2 separate regions of the Homo sapiens genome follow, and region 2 is linked to region 1. Evidence: fine-mapped expression QTL. A gene starts in region 1. The other region holds a variant in brackets. All regions are shown on one strand. Distances are between the middles of the regions. Region 1 holds the start of SPMIP5 (sperm microtubule inner protein 5). Region 2 has its middle 22 kb from the start of MIR9851.

The links. PIP is the estimated chance that this variant, and not a neighbour inherited with it, causes the effect. A credible set is the group of variants that fine-mapping cannot tell apart.
Region 2: its variant is the best candidate, but not a certain one, in a credible set for the expression of SPMIP5 in anterior cingulate cortex (GTEx, PIP 0.85).

What each region holds. Positions count from the first base shown.
Region 1 is chr10:116,665,635-116,673,634 of GRCh38, reverse strand. SPMIP5 (sperm microtubule inner protein 5) reads left to right here and starts at 3,669. Exons shown (of 6, transcript NM_001350931.2): 1 at 3,669-3,708; 2 at 5,312-5,377; 3 at 7,809-8,000. The coding sequence starts at 5,323. HSPA12A (heat shock protein family A (Hsp70) member 12A) reads left to right here. Exons shown (of 12, transcript NM_025015.3): 12 at 1-2,443. It overlaps HSPA12A-AS1 (HSPA12A antisense RNA 1), which reads right to left and starts at 3,580. Exons shown (of 3, transcript NR_187551.1): 1 at 3,357-3,580; 2 at 3,150-3,241; 3 at 897-1,430.
Region 2 is chr10:116,801,449-116,809,969 of GRCh38, reverse strand. It overlaps a transcript of HSPA12A not described here. Among named protein-coding and RNA genes, the nearest start is that of MIR9851, 22 kb to the left of the region's middle. The variant C/G (reference allele first, on the strand shown) is at 3,347.

The DNA.
Region 1 (8,000 bases):
GCATCAGAATTGCCTGGGTGCGTGTTCAGAACAGGTTCCTGGATCTGAGCCCTTTTTAACTGAGGCCGACTCTTGGAGAGGGGCACCAGAATCTGCATTTGTAGTGTATACCACATCGTGGTTCAACTGAAATTGGAGAAATACTAACCTGAGATTTTGTTGAAGTTCACACACAGATCACAGCCCGCCCTCTGCAGGTGTCCCCTTTGGGCTCCTTTAGGAAGAGGGCTTCCATGAGAAGGTGACCCCATACCTTGCCCTCTTGGTCAATGGGATTGGGGCTCCACCTGGCTTGGAGATGGCCCTTTTAACCCTCACAGGAAGGGCCAGGGGAGGAAAAAAATTGCAAGAAAGCGACACCAAGAACGGAGCTGACTGAGGAACCAACTGGAGGGTCTTCACTCTCTCCTTCCCCAGTGTACAAAACCAGTTTTCTGCAACATTCAGGAGCCAAATGAGGAAAAAGAATCAAGAATCTGACTCACAGCCCATCTGATCTGTTCAAAGCTGTCTTTTCCACCTGCTGAAATTCATTAAATCACTGGAGGCATGCATAATGAATGGAGAATGAGTGAACTTCCAATGCAACTTGGATTCACAAACCCATTATCATAGCCAATATGCAGATTTTAAACAGCATTTCACATTTCATTTGACCATGTCTTCTTTTTCGCATCGCCTGCTGCAGAATTCCCTACTAGAATGTGAAACAACGAACAAACCACAGAACTTAGAGTGTGCTGGTTAGTCACATAACTTAGTAGCAGGATTGTGTATCCAGGCACAAAGGTGTCTTTGCTAATGTTCTCTTGCTACCTGCCCTGCTTCAAACGCTAAATGGTATGGGTCTTTCTTTGTTGCCAGCCATATTCTACAAATAAGACTTTTCAATATAGTTATGAGTAATATAATTTTATGTACATATAATGTTAGAATATTGTACAGAATCTTGGTTTCTACGATGCGCTTTTCTTGTTTCAAAAAGAGGAAAATGCTTGATTTTTGTTGATGATACTTTTGTTACTGTCCTTAATTTTCCATAGTTTGGTTTCTTAATTGTGCTCACTAAGCATCGATCTGTGCTGATGCCAAGCTATGGACTATGTACGCAAGACCGAGCAATAGACAGAGGTGCCTAGGGTCCAAACACACTGAACGCACGTGGACCGCCTGGATCAGGAGCCTCATCAGACCCTTCTCCATGCACATCCTTCCCAAACAGTCACAGATTCCATTGAAAGGAGCAGATTCTATCAGTTCTTCTGTGCAGACTTTAAGAGCTGAACGTTCTGGTTCTGGAAGCCATGTGACTGCGCAGAACAACCTAAGAAACCCTTTGTGTCCTGAGGGGTCGTTGACCTCTCCTTCCGGGTCGGAGCAGTCACTCTGAGGGCAAAGCGTGGTCCACTGTGTGTGATGTTTTCAGGATGCTAGGGTCAAAGAAAGAAACCAAGTGGTACATAAGCCCAGCTTTTCTGCTGGGCTAAGTGTAAGTGTGAGTAACATGGTCAAGCCCCTCTTTTTTGGGCTAATGTAAAGCCTTTCCTGCCTTGCATTAATGCTATCTCCCTGTGTACTGTTTCTCTTAAATGAGCAGATAGAAATCTGCAGTGTTGGCAGATAGGTGATGGAGAGGATGATAATTTTATCTTCTGGCCACAGAGCTGCAGCCCCAGTTGTCAGAGTCCTTAAATGAAACCCCCAAATCCATCCCTCCTTCCCTACCCCCACTGGAATATTCTAGAATAAGAGCACTGGATAAGTACACTTGAACACATTTTTCTAACCTTAGAAAATACCTACAAGGCCTGTTGTCTTGACCCATTACTCAATTGTCCCTGGCATATTATCTGATCTTCACGTTTCTTGGAAGCAGAATCATCAAGGCTTTCCTTTGTAACTGCCCTTTCCGTACACAGCAGGCATGAATAAATGCTGAGTAACAGACAAGTTACAGACAGGAGGGGAAAGAGGAGGAACCATACAACTGTTTTTGCAAAATGATGGCTGAGTCCAGATTATAGAGGTTGCCTTACCCTTAGAATGTTATTTAGACCAAGTTTAGCTTTTAGAGTCCAGGTCTGGTTAATTGCCAGGGTAGCAAAGAATCGCATGCACCAATGTAAACAGGAGTCAGAATGCATTATTAGTCAAAGATCGAATTTCACATTGTAGAGATGTATAGCTGTGATTAAGCTGCATATGTATGCTGGGAAACGGCTTGAGTGGATGGCTAATATAAAAGTTGTTGGCCATAATGCCACACCTCTCATCTGCTTGAAATATGGACCAGTATTCTAAAATATCAGCTACTGGGGTCTCATTCACTACAAGATAAATTCAAACTTCACAGAACTTTGCAGCAGTTCACCACCAGACGGGACTGTGTCTGCAAACTCTCTTGTCTTCACAGACGCCTAATAAAGCAAAACTCTGAATCTCATGTGGCCCAGATTTTTTTTCCCCCCATCCTGGGTTTGCAAACTGCATGATGGACACGTCAGTACTGATCTCCCTCTCTACCCCATCTCAGGTGGTGGAGAGAGAGTTTCAGTTTTTTCCAGGTGCTGTAAGTTTTCTTAAGTTATTCTAACAAGACTAGGCCCTTTGTTTGCTGGGAACCAAGGCCCCATCGATGGGCACAGAGCCCCTTTTCTCTGGAAGAAAGTGGTCTAGCCAGAGGGAGGGCAGGTAAGCAGAGTGACCACTGCCAATGCCACTGCACCCCAGTGTAAGTCATTAAAACATGCAGAAGGCCTGGCTGGGCTCTTGCCCCTGGGCATCCCAGCCGTCACGTGAAACTGGCTGTGTCCAGAGCCTACACCTGAGTCGCCCTCCACAGTTGGCTCTGAAAGCTTCCTGATGGCCCGAGGTATGTTCTAAATGGGGTGATAAAAGAGAGGTATAAATGGTGGTCGGCTCCACCAGCCTTCATTTGCAGTTCAATTTTCAGAAAAGTAGAGGTAGGGAAGGCCGGGAGGTGCAGCAAACAAGCGTGTCCTGGAAGTAGCGCAGCTTCAGCGTCATTTTCTGTAAAGGGAGCAGCCAGCACATGCTGGTTCATAGGGCGGACATCTTGGTGGGTTTCAATTCAATGAGAGGAAGTCTGGGTGTCCCTCCAAGAGTGATTAGAAAGAAGGATGACTCACCTTCCCCAGGTGGACAGCCACTCCTCTCTGCCTTCACCTGTCCCGGCCACCTGAAAATCTGCCCCTCCTAACAGGAGACAGGGAGGGAGGGGCTGCCAGGCCCAGGAAGCTCCTGTATTGGAGGCGCCAGGGCCCCCAGGCCTCGCCTCCTCCCGCCCACTGCCGGCCCCGCCCCCTGTTCCCGCCCACCCGCTTCCCCGGCCAGACCTGCAGACCCAGGCGCCGCAGTGTCTACACCCGCAAAAACGCCCGCTTTGACTTAGAGCCCTCCGCATATCCTTCCCCTGGCTGGGGCAGCCAAGGCGCGGAGGACAGCTCCGAGGCCAGATGTTTACTGCGCAGATGCCCGACTTTACACCGGGGTCCGGGCTGTGCCGGGCGCTGGGGGAAGCGCCCACCTTCCAGGTGGGACCGCGGGAAGGGTGGGGGAGGGGCAGGCTGGCGGTGGTGGGGCCTTTGTGCTCCACCGGGTGAGCGCACAAAGGCCTGGTGGAAGGCAGGGATCCTGGGCGGCCGGGCAGAGGCCAAGTGGGCACCGGATAGCGCCAGCCCCGCCCAGGTGAGCGCTGAGGTGGGATTGGAAGAGGGTGGCTAGGAGGGGCCCTACTTTCTACCCACTCCTAGCCCCCTTTCTCAGGACACCGCCTTTCTTCCCACCCTCCTCCCTGCCCACCTCCTCCAGGCAGGCTTATACCCCAGCTGATGCTTTTGGGCAACATATCCTGTCCCTGAGAGTTTAGAGGTCATCTGTTCGCACCCCCTTTCACTCTGGAACCCTGAAACCAGTTACCTAACCTCTCTGTGCCTTATTTTTCACATTTATAAAATGGGGGTTCCAACAGGAACTCATTCTTAGGGAAGCTGTGGGGATTAAAGGAGAATGCGGTTCTGCTGCAACCACATGGGGATAGCCAGTGTTCCCTGTCTGTTGCCTTTTTAAATTGGGGAATGGGTATAATATAGCATTTATATCATGGGGCTGTTGAGAGGATTAAACAAGCGTGGAAAGCTTTCAGAAAAGTAAGCAGGTGGTCAGTATGGGTGGGACATGGTCTCACAGCCAGGTCTGTCTGACTCCAGGCCCAGTGCTTCCTCCCAGGAGTCAGGTACGTGATGCCAGGGGTTAGAGTGGCCTAGACGCGGCACAGTCCTCACTGCTGTCAGCCTGGCGGGGGCTGAACTGTCTTAACAATCCCCATCATTGCTGACTAAGCCATGACTGTGGCCCTCTCCTCCACCCTGAATCCTCTTCTTCCAGCCTCAAAGGCATTTCTTTAAAGAGATGAACTGGCTCAGCAGGGCAGGACTTGGCAAGGCCTCAGCCCACTTGGGGGGAATGACCAGCGATACCCAAAGAGGGAAGGTGTCTTATTGCAGAAACAGCATCCACATAAACTGATGTTTCAGTGGAGCCCCCTGAAGCAGAGGGTGGCCTCTGCTTACCCTCCTTGGACTCCATGTCTGCCTTTTGGGACTTCCTGATTCCTTCAAGCCAGAATTTCTTCTCCCTTGTTTGTGTGTGTGTGTGTGTGTGTGTGTGTGTGTGTGTGTGCATGTGTGTGCCGGCGGGTGGGGGGAGGCTTCTGAGCATTGCAGGATGTTCAGTAGCATCCCATCCCCCACTTCTGACAGCCAAATATGCCTCTGGACATTGCCAGATGTTCCAGGGGTAATGGTGGGGGCTGGCAAAAATCACCACTGCAACCTGATTTCACCTGGATCAAGAAGGAGGTCTGGGGGTGTGCGGGCCTCATCTCTCTCCTCACCTGAGGCTCATGAACCTAACACAGGGGCTTCTGGGCTTGCTCAGAAGCTTTGCATTCCCAGCCTCTATCATGTTTCACAGCCATAGTATGAGTACAGTTCACAATTGTTGGATGGCTGGAGGTCGGATGGAGGGGAGAGGAGACCCTGGTAGGTGTGATCTACACACTGTTATCCAAGTTAACATAAAAGGTGATGGGCCCTTGGTAATAGGTCATTGGTTTGTGACTGAAGCCAGCTGTGTCTCTGGCTTTGGGTAAGGTGGTAGTGCTGCCTCTCAGCCCCAACTCCTGGCAGTCATTCTTCCACTCCCAAGAGCTTGTGCACACTCAATAGTAATTCCTTAAGGCAGTGACTTTTGATGAGACCGTTTCATTCCCTCTTCCCTCCACTAACAGAGAGCGAAATCATGGAGCCTTCCAAGACCTTCATGAGAAACCTGCCAATCACACCAGGCTATAGCGGTAAGTGTGGACGTACCCTGCAGCTGTGCCTGGCAGGGGAACCCGGGTCCTGGTCACTGTCCCTGCCTTGACCCACTGTCTGTGTCTGTGCAGCCAACTGGACCAGTCTAGGCGCTCTAGCTTCTCAGACATGCATTGAGAGCATTCCATCGCTGAAGATGGCTGATGGCCGGGTTCTGAGGGGCAGAACTTAGACCACACGTCCCAGAACATGGCCTGGTATGCAGAGGAAGCACTTAATGCCTGTTGAATGAATTTGGACCAGGATAGACACAATGTGATGAGGATAGACACAATGTGATGAGGATAGACACATGAATAAGTAGAGGCCCTGTTCTCCCCAAGTTGGTTTTCTCAAGTCCTCCACAAAGGTTATTCTTGTGCTCCCATCCTTTCCTGCATCCCCTAAAGGAAGGCTGGCCAACTGCCCTGGTCTACCTGGGACTGCCTTTGTCCTGGGACTGCCTGGGACTTTCCTTAACACTGAAAATCTTGCATTTGGGAAACTCCTCAGTCCTTGGCAAACCAGGACGATTGGTTGCCCTACCTAGAGGCTATTCCTCCTCAGGCTTCTGGGCTACTGAGAACTTACTAAGTCATATCCCTGTGGGTGACAAACCCAGTGGTCCCCACAGACCCTTGGCTCTCCCATACAGCCGTTCTCAGGAGGAATAGTACTTGGGTGATATTCCAGGGTTGCCCAACCTCACTCTGGTCCTAATGGCTGGTTGAGAATAGGCTTTGGGTTCTGACAAGCTGAGGTTCGAATCTCTGTTTGGTCACTGTCGATGAGACTGTAAGTAACTTGCCTCTCTGTGGTAAGTACAACATTCTATAAAATGGATGTATTTGTTTTCTAGGACCACTGCAACAAATTACCACAAACTATGTGGTTTAAAGTGATGGAAATGCATTCCCTCACAGTTCTGAGGCCAGACGTCTGAAATCGAGGTGCCCGCAGGGCCATGCTCTTTCTGAAGGCGCTAGGGAAGGATCCCACCTTTGCTTCTTCCAGCTTCTGGTGGCCCCAGTGTTCTTGGCTTGTGGCAGCATCTCTCCAGTCACTCTCTTCATCCTCACACGGCATTTCCCCCTTTGTCTCTGTGTCACAAGTCTCTCTCTTCTTTCCTCTATAAGGACATCAGTCATCAGATTTAGGACCCACCCTAAATCCGGGATGATCTCATTTTTAGGCCCTTAACTTAATTACATCTGAGAAGTCCCTATTTGTAGATAAATGCACATTCACAGGTACCAGGGGTTAGGACTTGCATATATCTATTTGGAGGATACAGTTCAACCCACTACATGGGATACCATAAGATTGTTGTGAGGATTAAAGGAGCCAGCATACATAACCTATTTTAAATGTCTTGGTCCTTAGCGAGACTCGATAAAGGTAGTTCGTATGCTTATGTCTGTGCATATATGCACTAATATAAAACCTAGGCAGACCAAAGTCGGCCCTGATGGCAGGGAAACCACTGTGGCAAAGCCCCTAGGGTCTTCATAATGTTAGGATATCTTTTAATCATCCAAGGGTTGGGGAGTCTGGGCGATGCATGGAAGGCTTCCAACACTGTCAAGATTAGTTTAGTAATTAGGTTCTTCCAGAGGGGGTTATTGTAGGGCTCTGGGGGTGAGGATTGCTACTTTCAACTCTGAAGCCAGGTTTTGTTTTCCTGGAGACCATGGCAAAAATGTTGGGTTTCCATAAGGAGAGAGATTTATTTATTTATTTTGCAGTTTGAAACTAAGTTCTTAACCAGTTTTCCTCATTTGTTCTTCAAAAAAAAAAAAAATGGTTTTATTGTGACAATATTATAGTACTTAGGATTCAGCCTCCAGTTTAAGTAAATAGTTGTGTTTTACCCATACTAATTGTAATGATTATATGTTACTTGGTGGGAAATGGTGAAAAATTGTGCTAGGGGTGGGTCTTGCAGATAATGAATTTACCTTTTTGTGTAACAGGGCTCTACTTTTAATAAGCCTGCAATTTCCTGATGGTCCGGCAAGAAAGATCCCAAATTGCATTTGGGAAGTGTCGAGGAAAATAAGCTTTCTCTTTAAAAAGATGAATAATTTCAATTACTCCTTAGACTATCATTTTGGCCCATTAAATGCTTTCCCCATTTTCCGTCAGGCTGACATCAGGGGCTTTGCTATTCAAAGAGTATTACTGTCATCGCCTTTGTTGAAATGGGCCTTCCCTCCCCAGCTCCAAGGTCATTTTTTGTGGCCTTGGGAGGGCCCAGCCGCAGTGGAAACAACAGCACTGCTTGTATTAATGGCCTTTGGAAAAACGTAGTGCTGTTGGCTGAGGAAGAAATGCCAAAGGGTGGGCTGAAATGCTGGGGAGTTTAGGCGGGCTCTGAATTCCTTGCTGGCCAGTCTTGCTGAAGGCTGTGATTCCATTCGGCTCTTGCAGGCTTTGTGCCATTCCTCAGCTGCCAAGGAATGTCCAAGGAGGATGACATGAACCACTGTGTGAAAACCTTCCAGGAGAAAACACAGCGCTATAAAGAACAGCTGCGGGAATTGTGCTGCGCAGTGGCCACTGCCCCGAAACTGAAACCTGTCAACTCCGAGGAGACGGTCCTGCAGGCCCTGCACCAGTACA
Region 2 (8,521 bases), 140 kb before region 1:
CGTGTCTTCCCCGGGTCCCTCCCCAGGGATCCTGTGCGACTGGAAGAACCAGCCATGACAGGTTTTAGGTAGCTGCCCTCTTTCTCTCCGAAAGTCTCGCCTTTTCCAGTGCTCTGCCAGTTCTGTATACCCAAGAGGAAGCTGCAGTTATGGCGGTGAGCAACATCTGTCTTTTTGAATCCTCTTTTTAGGAAAGGGTCCTTTGGAGCAGATGCAGTAGTGGGGACAGGCCTGGAGAGGCGCCAGAGAGCAAGAAGCTGTCCAGGCGCTGGCACAGCAAATATTGGAACCGCCAATTTTCCTGAATCCCAGGAGTGAGTGGGTTTCCCCCGCAGACAGTCCCCGGCGTCGCTGAAATGTGTTGATGAAACAGCAGCAGCGGCAGTATTGCTGACGTCAGTTGAGCACTTCCTGTGTGCCAGGCCATGGGCTACTCATTCTACTGGGCTCTCCCGTGGAATCCTCACCTTGCACAGAGAGCACAAATGCTATTTTCAGCCCTCTTTTTAGAAACAAGGAAACTAAGGCTTTGAGAAATTTAGAAATTTGGTCAAACTCAAGCTAGAAAGAGGCAGATCTGGCTTTGAATCCAGGTGTGTCTGACTCCGGAGCTTTTGCCTTCATGAGGGTTCAGGGTGCTTTCCTCTTTGTGCAAAGGTGGGTAATGGAGCCCCATCACCAGAGGGCTTCAGTCATGAGTAGCCTCAGTGGTGGCTTGTGCTGGTGATGCTGGTGACTTTACCTGCAAGTAACTGTGCCTCATCAACATGTAAAATGTCAGGAAAAGCCTCTGCCCCTGAGCCAGGTGCCGGGAAGTGGCTCCCCTGAGTCCCCACTTAAGCCCTTTGATGTGCCTCATCCTCCCCCTTCCCTGCCTCTAGAGATCGGCAGGTGTCCCAGGAAGCATGTGCCCAGGCCGGATGCTGCTGGAGCCATAGGACAGCCCTCTAGGAAGAGGAAGGAGCGGAGGAAGAGAAGTCTGTGGAAGGAGGCCCCTCCCGACTTGCCTCCCACTCCCCGCTAGCCACTGGGGGCGTGATACTGAATTGTTGCCTGGTCAGTGGCACCGCCATGTCGTGACCCTACGGTAGCCTACTGTAGGAAAGTCTGAACATAGGAACGGCGGTGCGGGGCCCTCTGTAAATACACCCTGTACAGGAATGTGAGCTGTGGAGCATCAGATGTGCAAAAGTCGGAGACCAACTGGATCTGAAAGGCTCTCTGTCCCTCAAAGGAGGGACTCTTCAACTGTGATTTGAATAAAGATGGCAGCACAATCATGGATCTGGCCATAATTACGCCAGACCATTGTGGGGAACAGGATGCACGCTGGGCATTATTAAGCTGCACCATGAAAATCAGGTTCTGGAAATGAACAGGTTTAAGGAAACGCTGTGTTGAGGTCCCGCAGTTCTCTAAACTACAGGACTCCTTAGGGCCTCCAGTGTGCTTGTGGGGCGATTGAAATGCCCACCATGGAAATCAGCCTCATACCATGTTAATCCACAGACGCACAAACCACACTGCAAAACAGTCGTGGTCATGTGGATTTTTACTGAGGATTTCTTGGGGCGACCAACAGAGGAGGAAGTGATGTCACCCAGCTTGCATCTAAACTTCCTAAATCCTCTGAAGTTTCCTGGCTGCCCCCCAGCCCCCGTCCCCCTTTCCCCACCAGAGTTCTTCTCCCAGTGGCAACTGAGACATCTGTTCTCATAGCCAAGCTCCTTCTCCACTGTCTACCTCCAGGATGGGCCTCAGCATTCATCCCTCATCAGAAAAACTCAAGGCCCCTTCGCCAAACTCTTCTATATTCCTCCAAAAGCCCTGGGGACTTTCAGATAACCCTGAAACCTTCAGTCTTTCCAAAGAAAAAGCTGGCATTGTCTTGGAACCCAGGGGACCAGCGTCCTCAGAAACTACCTTGGGAAATTATACCCTGGAGACATTGTAGGAGGAGATGGCCAGAGGCTAAAGCCTGTTAGACTGTAGCAGGCAGGACACACTTGCCCAGCAGTGCTGACTGATCCTCCTGCCTTCTAGAGAGCTGGGTTGAGGAAGATCCCAGGATGAAGTCTGGGCGCAGTCTGCATGTCCTGATTGAAGAATGATGTCAGCCAGGCTGTGAATGAGGAGGCGTTGGTAGCCAGAGGGCCAGGAATCTGCCATGCCTGGTCTACAGCTTAGTCTAGGAAACAGCCCAGAATTGGGGCTGAACGGCTGCAGTGTGATCCTTGCTCTGCTCCAGACTCACGGTGTATTGTCCTAATGACAGTTCACCTCTGTGAGCCTCACTTACTTCCAAGTGGCGCAGACACCCCAGAACCCTTATCTCATAGAGAAATGGGGACGACCCGCTGACCTAGTAGCTAATGGCCTGAAGGAGTAGACTTGCCTTCACATAGATCAAATGTGCCATAAGATAGAAGCATTGCTACATCAACAGAGCATGCTCATCAGGCTCTTGGCAGGGTATGTGTGGCACACTCAATCCAGTTAACTCGAGGATGTTTGGATACGGGGACTGTTTACAAAGGTATGAGCAGGGTATCAGGAAGACCAGGGCTGATATGAGCTCTAAGCCTGCAGGGGTAAGAGGGGAAAGCAGGTCCAGGGACCCAGAAACAGAGAGTCCCTTGGAGAGGGCTGCTTCGAAAGGAGCTATGGCCGTTAGGTTGAGGAACACAGCCAGCTCACAGTGACCCCGTGGAAGGGAGCCAGAGATTTCATGTCTGGCCTCTCTCCTCCCTCCCTCTAGGCCCTGCACTGGCTGAGCCCACCGAGAAGTCAAAGAGCCCCTGGTTGTAGCTCCCTTGGCAGAGAGCAGGGTAGAAATGTACTCTCTTCCAGTTCTGGTGGCCAGAAGTTCAAAATCAAGGTGTTGGCAGGGCCACAGTCCCTCTGGATGCTCCAGGCATTCCTTGGCTGACGTCTGCATCACTCCAGTCTCCACCTCTGTCTTCACATCACCCTCTCCTCTCCTCTACCTGTGTGTCTCTCCTATCTGTGTCTCCTGCAAAGACGCTTGCCACTGGATTTATAACTGGGTAACCCAGGACGATCTCCTCATCTCCAAATCCTTAATTACATCTGCAGAGATTCTTTTCCCACATAACATTCACAGGCTCCAGGGATTTGACATGGATATATCTTTTGGGGGGCCACGGGTCAATCCCCTGCACCAGCCTTCCACATCTAACCTCTGTCCCTGATGTGTTGAGATGGGAGGGAACCTTCTGTCTCCCAATGGCCTCTCGGAACGAGGGCCCCTTAGCACTGTGAGCCAGGGCACCTTTGCATATCTGCTTTAAGTAGATACTGATCCTTCAGTAGGGGTGGCGTGGGG[C/G]TGCACATTTTACCTTGTGTCAAAAAATGATTCATATCATGGCCTGTGGCAAACACTGTGTCTTCTGAGAGCTCTGTTTCACATCTTTAAGATGAAATAGATCAAATGTCTGCAATAGGCCAGGTGAGGTGGCTCATGCCTGTAATCCCAGCACTTTGGGAGGCCGAGGTGGGTAGACTGCTTGAGCTCAGGAGTTTCAGACCAGCCTGGGCAACATAATGAAACCCTGTCTCTACAAAAAAATACAAAAATTAGCTGGGCATGGTGGCTCAAGCCTGTATAGTCCCAGCCACTGAGGAGGAGGCTGAGGTGAGAGGATGGCTTGAGCTGGGGAGGTGGAGGTTGCAGTGAGCTGAGATCGTGCCATTGCACTCCATCCCGGGCAAGAGTGAAACCCAGTCTCAAAAATGTATATATATATATCTACAGCAGTGTCTTCCTGTAGAATTCCACTGTGCTGTCACTCATGCTAGGGAAAGATGGCCATCTCTCTGGTAACTTTGTGCCCACCACTTCTGGCCCATGACACACTTGTCAGCACCTGGAGGTCAAGCTGAGAGCCACACTGGGTTTTCATCTCTGCCTTCAGTCCATCACAGAGGTGGCCCAAGGATGACAGTATGCATCTCTCACGTTGGACCAAAGGCCCACTGCCTAGGTGCCCTCCTGGGTGGTCTGAGGTGGCATTTACGCTCAGGCATCCTGGGTTAGCTCCGATTTCCAGCCAGGTGATTCTTGAATCCTTTTACGCAGCAAAATGTAACAGTGACAACCTGACACCTTTTCTAATTGTGTTTTAATTGAAAAGACTTGATTTGATTACAGAAGCCTACACTGTAGTTGAAGGGCTTCTTAAAACATGTATTAAATTGGAAAGATTGCAATGTTTCGCTGTGCAATTATGTAAACAGTCACATAAATGGGGCCGTTTACAGTCAGCAGGAATGCTTTTTCAGTAGCATGGTGGCAAACTGGCATCGTTGATCAGTGACAGGTGAATTTGTTTTTTTCAAGGACAAACACAAGTCAGTACCCCCCCGCCCAACATCAACGGAAACAGCTTTTTCATTTTCTCCTTTTGTGTACATTTTCCCTTGAAATCTGTTGTGATTTTAAGTAGTGTTTCTGTGTCCTCAGGTGTGTGTGAATTTCCCATCATTGTTAAGGAAAATAAAATGTGCCACATGGCTAAAATGTTTAGTTTTCTCAGCAGTAAAAAATGATCTAGGAATTCAAAAAAAAACCTTCAACTCCAGCTTTAAAATGGAATAGAACTACCTGAAAATTCCCTGCAGTTTTTGTTTTTTTGCGATGGAGTCTCTCTCTGTCGCCCAGGCTGGAGTGCAGTGGCGCGATCTCGGCTCACTGCAAGCTCCGCCTCCCGGGTTCACGCCATTCTCCTGCCTCAGCCTCCCAAGTAGCTGGGACTACAGGCGCCCACCACCACGCCCAGCTAATTTTTTGTATTTTTAGTAGAGACAGGGTTTCATAGTGTTAGCCAGGATGGTCTGGATCTCCTGACCTCGTGATCCACCAGCCTCGGCCTCCCAAAGTGCTGGGGTTACAGGCGTGAGCCACCGCGCCCGTCCAACATTCCCTGCGGTTTTAATGGAAGTGTCCATTAAATTTACTGGGGATAAAAGATAATTTACCTCCATCCCCACTATCCGTGCCTTCCCACAGGACGTGCAAGGCTCGCCTATCTTTTTTGAACTTCAAAATAAAAGAAACATTGATCAGAGCTGTCATTGAAACATTACTTCTGTTGTCCATCACTTGTTCAACCCTGGCCTCTTAGAAGGAAACAGGTCCCACAATCATTATTTTTCTCCCAGCCCCAAGAAAATAGGAGCTGCAAATGGGCTGGGAGATTATGTGCCTCCAGTGGTTTTGAAGGGAAGCATTTACTGAGGGGGAAAATTGTTTTAATCTTATAACAACCAGGGAGGAGAGTTTGTAAAAACACAGAACACCTACACATGCACTTGATTTTGTTGCGTAGGAACACGCAGGAACATTTCCTCCCACTAATGTTCCTGATGCCTCAGCGGAGGGATCTCGCTGTGGCTGGGGCTGGGGGCTGGGGGTAAAGGGAGAGGAAGGGGAGGTAGAGACCTGGAGTGGAGTTGGCCGAGAATCTCAGGGACTCGGGGAGGGTATACCCGCTACAGGATGAAGGTTCTCCGACCCCTTCTGGAAATGTGAGCCCCATAGGACGCTGCAAGCTTTGCTTTCCGAAGGCCCAACCCCTCAAATCGGGGAGCCTGGTGCCACCGCTGTTACAACTTCACGGCGGACCCAGCCTCAGTTCCCCTAACCATGGGTTCCCCTGGTTAACTGAACACGTTGGGGTGTTTGATGAATTTCGCATTTGCTGAACCAAACAGCCCACAAGCGAGCAGATTCGTCCCGTCGTCAGGTGAAAATAAGAATAATGAGTGGCTTAAGAAAATGCGTGCATCGTTTTTTTGGAGGGAGGAGGGAGGAAGGACAAGAGGGAGGGAGGGAAGCAAAGGCTATAAATGCGTATGTGCCTGTCGACCGTAGGGAGCTGCACAGAGGGGCCGTTGCAAGACAGTGCGTGATTTGTGAGTGGGGATGAGGAGGGGCTAAGGGGAGATTCTCACATTTTGCTTCTCCGTGTACTTAGGAGTTTGAATCTTTTACTGGGGGACCTAATAATGGCTTAATTGTGTTATTTTCAAAAGGGGGTGGTGGTAAGGGAGTGGACTTTAAACAGAAATGTCCAGATTTAGAGGAGAAAGTGACAAGTGGCCTATTTGTATGAAACATTATGAATGAACCGTGGTCACGCAGTCAGAGAAGACGGGAAGGGAGACTTGGTATTTACACCCTTCGTCAAGCTCACATCCCTTTGTCGTCTTTAAGAGAGTGTGCCTTGCACAAAGATGTGCCTCATTCAGAAGAGAAACAGCTGGTTTCTGGAAATACAGTTCACGCTCCGATCATTCCCAAGAGACACAGAACATATCATCCAAGAAGGGCCTTCTCTGGTGGAAGAGCGCATCTCCCAGGAACAAAAGGCCCACACAGAAGCCCCAGGCGGTGGGTGTTTTCCTGGAACCTTTGATTTAAAGGGGAGGGCGATTACACTGGGAGTGATTGTTTTTGTGCTTTATTAGAATGCCTGGATTCAGCTCAGGGGGTGCCTGCGGGGTTAGATACCGAAGCAGAAAGGCAGTACCTGGGTCCTTGCCCATGGGATCTTCCTCTTCCCCACAGTGTCTCTTGCCAGCCCCACTGTCTGGCTTTTCTCACCACTCTGCGTGGCCCCTGTGAGCTCCATGCCAGCGTGTTTGGGTACGTGTATATCTGCGTGTACGCATGTTGGCTCCCCAAGGAGTCGGCAGGCATCTTCCCGAATTCTCTCCGCACACCCTCTCGTCCCCTGCCTCGAGTGTACCTATGTTTTGCACACAGCATACCCTCAGAAAATACCAACTACCTGTCAGTTCCCTAATACGTGCGTGTGTGTGCACGCGTGCGCATGCCTCGTGGCGCCTGCGTCAGCTTTCATAAGGTAAGGCTGCAGTAACGAACAATCCTCATCTCCCGGTGGCTTACTCCAAACATGCTTTATTTCTTGCCCTGTTCTGTGGTCGTTGCCAGCTGGCTTGGGCCCTGTTCCACGGGTCTCCTTCGTTCGGGAACCCAGACTGAAAGGGTAACACCTGTCAGAGACATACAAAGGGAGAAGAGACACAGATCTGGCTGACCCAGGCCATGGCTCTTCAAACTTCTGTTCAGACTTGGCAGACCTCATCTGCTCATGTTCTGTGGCCCATGATACGGCCAAGCCCAACAGTGGGCAGGGAAGGATGTCCCTCCTGTGGGAAGGCCCTGCCAGGGAGAGGTAGGCAAGCCGTGATCGGGGCAGCCTGCCTCTGCTCAGTGGCCTTCTGGGATAAGCTGCCCCCTTCCTGTGGCCCCGGTGACTTTCCTGGTCAGTCTTTGCACTCACCCTGGCGTCTCCCACCATGCCTCCATTGTCTTTTTTTGTTCCTGTTGTTGTTCTAATTATAAAAGTAACACATTCTCATTGTAATGTATTTTAAACAAAGTGAAAGTGACCCTTTGTTACCTCTGCTAAGAACCTTCCATCCGGGAAGCAATCACTGTGACCCCTTGAAGGTGCATCCTCTCAAGTGTTCCCCTGCTCACAGAATCACATATGGTGCACGTGTATATAGATAAGATTTTAGGGAAATGGGATCTTCCTAGACATATGCACGCAGATACATGTTATTTTGTGGCCACATTTTGTGCTTAGCAGTGCATCACCAATATCTTCCTGCAGGGCTGCTTTCCTTATGGTGAGTGCACAGGAGTCCACGGGCCTGGGCAGCTCATGTTCACTGATTATTGTCCTACTCTGGGAGATTCAGTTTATTTCTAGATTTTTCAATGACAACCATGCCATAAAGAACACCCCATATACACTTGGTCGGGTCATTTTGTAAGCTGGACTCCCAGGATTGAATTGCTGGGTGAGCATGTTTTACATTTTGGTGGATGCTGCCATCTTGTTCTCCCAAAGGCCCGTGCCAGAGCTTATGCCCTCCCCAGGGTGGCTAGCAGGCCTGTTTCCATTCTACCCAGCCCACACATTTTTTTAAACTTTCATTTTGAAATGATTTTAGACTCACACAGAAGTTGCAAACATAGTACAGCCATTGGTTGTACACTTTCTGGACACAAAAAAGGGTATACTTGGTGTACCCTTCACCCAGCGTCCCCCAGAGATGGCTTCCCACCTAACCACAGGACAAAGATCAAAGCCAGGAGATTGCCTTTGGTACAATACTATTAAGTAAGCTTTATTTGGATTTTGCCAGATTTTACATGCGCTTTTTTTTTTCTTTTGGTGAATAGTTCTATGATATTTTATGACGTGTATAAATTTGCCACAAAGCTATTAAACTTACCACGTATTAGGTTTGAGTATAATAAATATGCTTTTTTTCTTTCTCTGTGCAATTTATTTTTGTGGTTGTTGGGTCCTTCTGAGCTATTGCGCTCGTGGGAATGCTTGAATTTAGATCCAGTGCAAGGCAGCTGTTCGTTTTTTCAGTGTGAGGTGACCAGATGCTAGGAACTCCCTTTCTCCAACTTCCCTGTGAACCCCCTCGGGATGGGGGCTCTTAACACTCAGGA